2 separate regions of the Homo sapiens genome follow, and region 2 is linked to region 1. Evidence: fine-mapped expression QTL. Tissue or cell type: lung. Region 1 holds a variant in brackets; the other region holds the start of a gene. All regions are shown on one strand. Distances are between the middles of the regions.

Region 1 (2,761 bases):
ATTATTTAATTTAGATCTATCCTCATGAAATCTTAAATTATTGCATATTTCTTTTTATTTATTAACATCTGTTTCTCTTGTAAATATTTATGTGATTAGAAAATTCTTGAGGAGGGAAAAGTAATCTATCCACCTGTCAGACCAAAAGAGCGACTAAATATCTCAGAAAACAAAGGATAGATTAAACTGTCCACCTCTACTTTGCTTTAATTTGATCTTGTCTTAAAGTCACAGAACTAAGATGGATCTCTTAATTATTTATACAAACAAAAGTGGCTTCTTTAATTTTTAAAAAGGCATAACTAACCACATAATTGCTCTCTCTTGTTTTTCTTTTAGACTTGAAAATAAATTCCAAACTAAACTACTTTTTTATCTGTTGTTTTTCAATACTTTCTTGATCATTTATTCTTAAAACCTATTTACTTTTCTGGAATAAATGTTACTCCTAATACTAACAAACATGCGTTTTATTTTCATAACACTATGTACATTTTATAAGATATGTCAATATCTCATGGAAGGAAGCATAATATTTTTGGAGTTAAAAAGTTCTTTGAAGCCAGACAGGTCTATATTCAAATCCCAGTTTACAAGAAATTTACTTTCCTCAACCCATAAAATTAAAGTAACAACCCATATCTTCAAAGATTTAGGAAAGCGCATTAGTTCTCTATTGCTGCTGTAACAACCAAAAACTTGGTGGCTTAGAGCCACATCCTTTTATTATTTACAGTTTCCGTGAGTCAGAAAGCCTAGGCACAGTGTTGCTCAATTAGGTTTCTCAGTTAGGGTCTCTCAGGATGGAGCTCAAGGTATCAATAGGGCTTATGTCATTCTGGAAGCTCAGGGGAAAATTCATTTTCAAGGTCATTCAGGTTGCTGGAAGGATTCACCTGCAGGATAAGATCCCATTTCCTTACTGACTGACAGTGGGAACTGCTCATGAGGTCTCTCCCATCCCTGCAGAGAGCCCCCTCCATCTCAGAACCAGTGATGGCATGTTCATTTCTTACCCTCAGAGTCTCTCTGGATTTCACTTCTGCTGCATCTCTCTGACCCCAACCAGAAATAATTCTATGCTCATGCAACTATATTCAATAGTTCATTCACCTAGCCAATTAATGATAATCTATTTTAAAGTCCCAAACTTTAAGCATACCATTAAAGTCCCTTTTGCCATGTAATATAACATATTCATACATTCCAGGGATTAGAATCTGGATATCTGGAAGGGGGGGTGGGGCAGGGGACCATTCTGCCTACCACAATAAGCCAATGAAAGGCAATGTTGCCTGAAATAGTAGGAGCATCTAAAATATAGTAAATGCACAATTAATTGTTGCCATGCTAAGAAGGAGGATGATAATGATTTGCTCAGCTGTTTCCTACATCTTCTGGACCTCTGTTTCATTTTCTGTAAAATTAAGATTATATTTACTACTACACCTAATGTTGTTTGAGGACTAGTTAAGACGGTGTATCTAAAGTACCTGATGGAATGTTTAGTGCACACCAGGTACCCGGTGACTGTTAATCTTACGAAAGAGGCTGTAAGCTGGTCACGAAAGTCTTCCAGAGGAATATATGA[T/C]TGTCCAGGTAAGTTACACTTGCCAGCCTTCCTGCTGTTAGCTATGGCCATGTGATGAACTTTTATCTAAAATAATCTGAGTGGAAGTGATCTGTGACAATTCCACACCAAGCCCATGCATGCTTTCATGCATGTGTCTTTATACTTTTTCCCCAATTATAATGGCATGGCCCACACAAACCTGGAAAACCACATGTTGAAAATGGCAGAGTAGACATCAGCTTGGATTCCCAAATGACTGTGTGGAGCCAATTGGGACTATCTTTCCTGGACAGTTATGTTAACGAGTGACAAACTTCTGTTTTATTTAAGCAATGATATTTGGCGTGTCTTTGCCTCATAGTTTGCTTACTCAAACCCTTCATCCCTTCCCAATTTTAGCTTTATCACAAACCTTGACTATATGCAGTGTGATTTTGCAGTGGAGATGACTATGACCCTTATAGGATGATCCTGATCCCCCACACAGTCCAGCTGTCTTCACCACATAGCTAACATTCAATGTTCTTTGCTATAGCTGCGGGGATTGTGTTCGAAGTTCCTATTTCAGACAGTCTGCTCTTCAAGCTCTCCTGTTCCCATCACAATTTCAGTCCTCATTACCCACATGGAGCAGAAGAAACACAGAGAATTTCTGAAGTGCTGTTAGGCTGTTCTTCAGTTATTATGAAGCCTTTGATGTGTGCAGAGGTGTGGCTTTAATTCCTAACAACCGAATAACTTCAAAGGGGGAAAAGCTTGAAAGGGGATACTGAGGAAGACCTTTGTTATTTTTTAAGGGACAACCTTCCTAGTGGTATTTTTCTCCACGGATGATTCTTTGTCACCCAAAACCATGGGAGGAAGATAAATAATACCTCCCAGTGTGTTGACAGTAACTTCATAGATCAGAAAAGGCTGTGGAAATAGGTCAGACCAAAAATATATAGTGGTAAGTACTGACTGTGATGCTAGACTGCCCAGTGTTTGCCAACTGGGGAGTGCAACCAGTCAAGCCAGGGTGGTCACTGAGACCAAAAAGAGAAATGCAAATAGTGTGGTTATTGTCCTTGTGGTTACATTGCAAAGGTGTCCCTTAGAGGACCAAGAAGCCATAGACCCTATCCTGCAGAGCAATGGTTTTCAAGCATGTTTTAATTCTGACCAACAGTAAGAAATACATTCTGCATG
Region 2 (2,761 bases), 53 kb after region 1:
AGCTCCAGGATAATGAAGCACAGGAGATATGAAAAACGAAAACATGGGAGAAGAAGAGATAATTCATAGGAAAAATAGCCTAGAGGAAGCAAGACAATAAGGGATCACAGGACTTGGGCAACAGCCAGGCAACATATGCCTTCACTGTGAGGTGAATTCTCATTAGCCTCACTTGTAATGACTTCATAGAACTGGAGTTAAGGATTTCACGTAAAAGAGAAAGATCCCTGGGCATCATCTTTTCAGGTCGTTTATTCTTAGTCATACAGCGTTCCAACGGAGAGGATGCACTCTAATTCTCCATAGAGAATTCTCTACCATATTAGCTCATACCCTCCTGTGCAAAACTAAACAGGAGTACTGAAAACAGCTAGTGTATGTTATGTGGGATGATCGCCTTCTTCATGAGTTAAATAGAAACTTGCAAAGAAAAGAGACAATTTCTAAGAAACTCTAAATATGGGGGTGTGGTGGGGTGGGGGCAGGTGTATGTTGCTCTCTTCCTTAAAAAAAAAAAAAAAAAGAAGGAGAAGAAGAAGAAGGAAAAAGCCCCTGGGAACTTGGGGAACAAGATGAAGATCAGGAAATCAAGGCATTTGTCCCAGCGTCACCCTTCCTACCTACTAATTCTGCATGCGTTGCTTTTATTGTCAGCTCTGGCCTCAGCTGCTTCGTAGTTGCACCGTAGTTCTTCTCAGAACTGAACCTATTTCTTTTTTTCTCATCCCCAAAGTGGCTGGTTTCTGGGCTTTGTTTGCTCTTGTTTCTTCATCACCGAGAAATACAGAAATATGAAAGCGCCTCACGGTGCCCAGAGTGACAAAAGGACACCCACACAAGTTTACCAGGACTCCTAAAAGTCCTTGCCTGAGGACTGTCCCCTAGCAACTACCCAGAGCTCGACGAAGCAAAGCCGGGAGCGCAAGCCCTGACAGCACCGCCAAGCCCCTAGCTCGGAGCAACAGCCTCCACCGCTTCTCCTCGCTAAACCTAGAGAACCCTGAGGACTCCCCACTGGGGCTGAGCCCCTCCCGCCCTCAACAGAACCTCTAAACACAAGTAGCCTTTCCCTGCCTCCAGGAGCTCACGAAACGCTGCCACACCGAGCGAATGCAACGCGTACACACGTCCACACTCGAACAGCACAAGCAAGAGACCGGCTGGGTGTGGAATAGAGGCGCACATCGCGCAACGCATTCACAGCATGCACACGCGCGCACCCCGACCCCGTCCCTCCCCGCGCGCCCTCACACCCCGGCGCCCAAGACCCCCGGCCCACGAACCTCACCAGACAGCCGGGTAACTTTCCAGGTGCGCAGCTTGTCACCTCGGCGCGGCCGCCCCTGCGTCTCAGCGTCCTCTCCCACGCCGCCCTCCCCAGCCGCCTGCGGCGCCGGAGCCCAGCGCAGGTCAGCTCAGCCAGCCCCGCCGTGCACACGGTGCGCAGCGTGGGCCCGGGGCTGCCGGCTCAGTCGCTCCGGCTACGTGTGAGCCGGGGGCGCGGGTTAGCGCGATGCGGGCAGGAGCTGCGGCGGCGTCGGTGCTGCCGCCTGGCTCCGCGGCGGGGGCCGGTGCAGAGGAGACACGCAGGGAGGGAGGGAAGAGAGGAGGGAAGGAGGAGGGAGGGGGTCAGCCGGGGCTACTGCCTGGATAGTTGGGCGCCGGCTTCCCTAAAGGTGGGGTCACCCGCGCCCGCACGCACACTAGCCCGAACCTTTACTCCCGACACAGCCGCAGTCTGCACTTTATACCCCATACCCTCCATAGTGAGGCAACTTAAGTAGGGCGATAACATCGTGGTTGTAAGCATTTTTGTTCATGTTATTATTTCTATTTCAAGTGTGTGGGACGAGGGGAGAGGAAAGTTCAGGGAGGTGTTCATTTTTTCCTTCCCCTCCCTTTCCTCCATCCTTCCAGTCTGTTTTCACTGCAGGCTCTCTCCACTTCGCCTTCCCTCCCAGAGCTCAAACAGGCGCACGTACCCTGGACATGCCCTCCTCTGTCACACCAATGCCTTTCTACGAAGACATGTGACCCCGAAGCAGCTCGTCGACGCGCCCCTCCCGGACTCTGGGGCCATAACTTACATCTAGTTTGCCAGTTCACGTGATGCTGGGGGCAGGGGTTGAATCGAGTTTCGAGGGACAGAGATTATACCTTCCGAATCTGCAGGTCTTTGGGAAGGGAGCTTTCTTGATCACCCAAGAAGATAATGCTCTCTCGTCACCTTTTGAGTACATTTTTTTTTCCTGAAGGGTGCAATATGGTTTCCTAAATATATATGTACACCCCACCGCATTATTTGCTGTGCTCTGGAGTTGTGAGATCTCCATGTGGCTTTTTCCCTTTCCTTCTGCCCCCAGAGGAATTTCACCAGCAAATTCACGGAGGACAAGGGCAGTTTCTGTGTTGAGAGATGGAAAGTATAGTGAGGGTCTATTCCTCACTGTGCATCTAGAGAATGTTACAACCAACTCTCTTGGGTTTTTAAACCACATGGTGGCAGTGGGGCTCATGTAACATTTGTATACACTGTTACATACATAAACTTATATTAAAAATGAGGCCCATGTAAAATATGTTGAATGAGACCATTAAGTTTCAGAGGAGGAGGAATATAGTCCTGTTTGTTTTTGTGCTAACTGGAGGAAAATCGCGAAAGTACACAAAGTACCTTTTCATGAAGCTATCCCAGAGTCTGTACATTTTATAAAGACCTCAAAAAAAAAAAAATTAGAGGAGAAAGGAGTGAGGAAGAATT

Alleles and levels. Alleles are on the strand shown, and positions count from the first base shown. SD is a standard deviation of normalised expression in the study named.
With allele C in place of T in region 1, the expression in lung of the gene that starts at base 1,575 in region 2 is lower (small effect, 0.31 SD a copy in GTEx).

What was found. PIP is the estimated chance that this variant, and not a neighbour inherited with it, causes the effect.
Region 2: PRKG2 starts here. The variant in region 1 is fine-mapped to the expression of PRKG2 in lung (GTEx, PIP above 0.99).

Annotation. Positions count from the first base shown.
Region 1 is chr4:81,160,700-81,163,460 of GRCh38, forward strand. All of the region lies in intron 6 of PRKG2 (protein kinase cGMP-dependent 2), which reads right to left. Among named protein-coding and RNA genes, the nearest start is that of PRKG2-AS1, 2.9 kb to the right of the region's middle. The variant T/C (reference allele first, on the strand shown) is at 1,592.
Region 2 is chr4:81,213,648-81,216,408 of GRCh38, forward strand. It overlaps PRKG2 (protein kinase cGMP-dependent 2), which reads right to left and starts at 1,575. Exons shown (of 19, transcript NM_006259.3): 1 at 1,289-1,575. LOC124900726 (a long non-coding RNA gene) reads left to right here and starts at 1,239. Exons shown (of 2, transcript XR_007058162.1): 1 at 1,239-1,311; 2 at 1,918-2,577. RefSeq lists enhancers at 607-1,107, 1,108-1,608.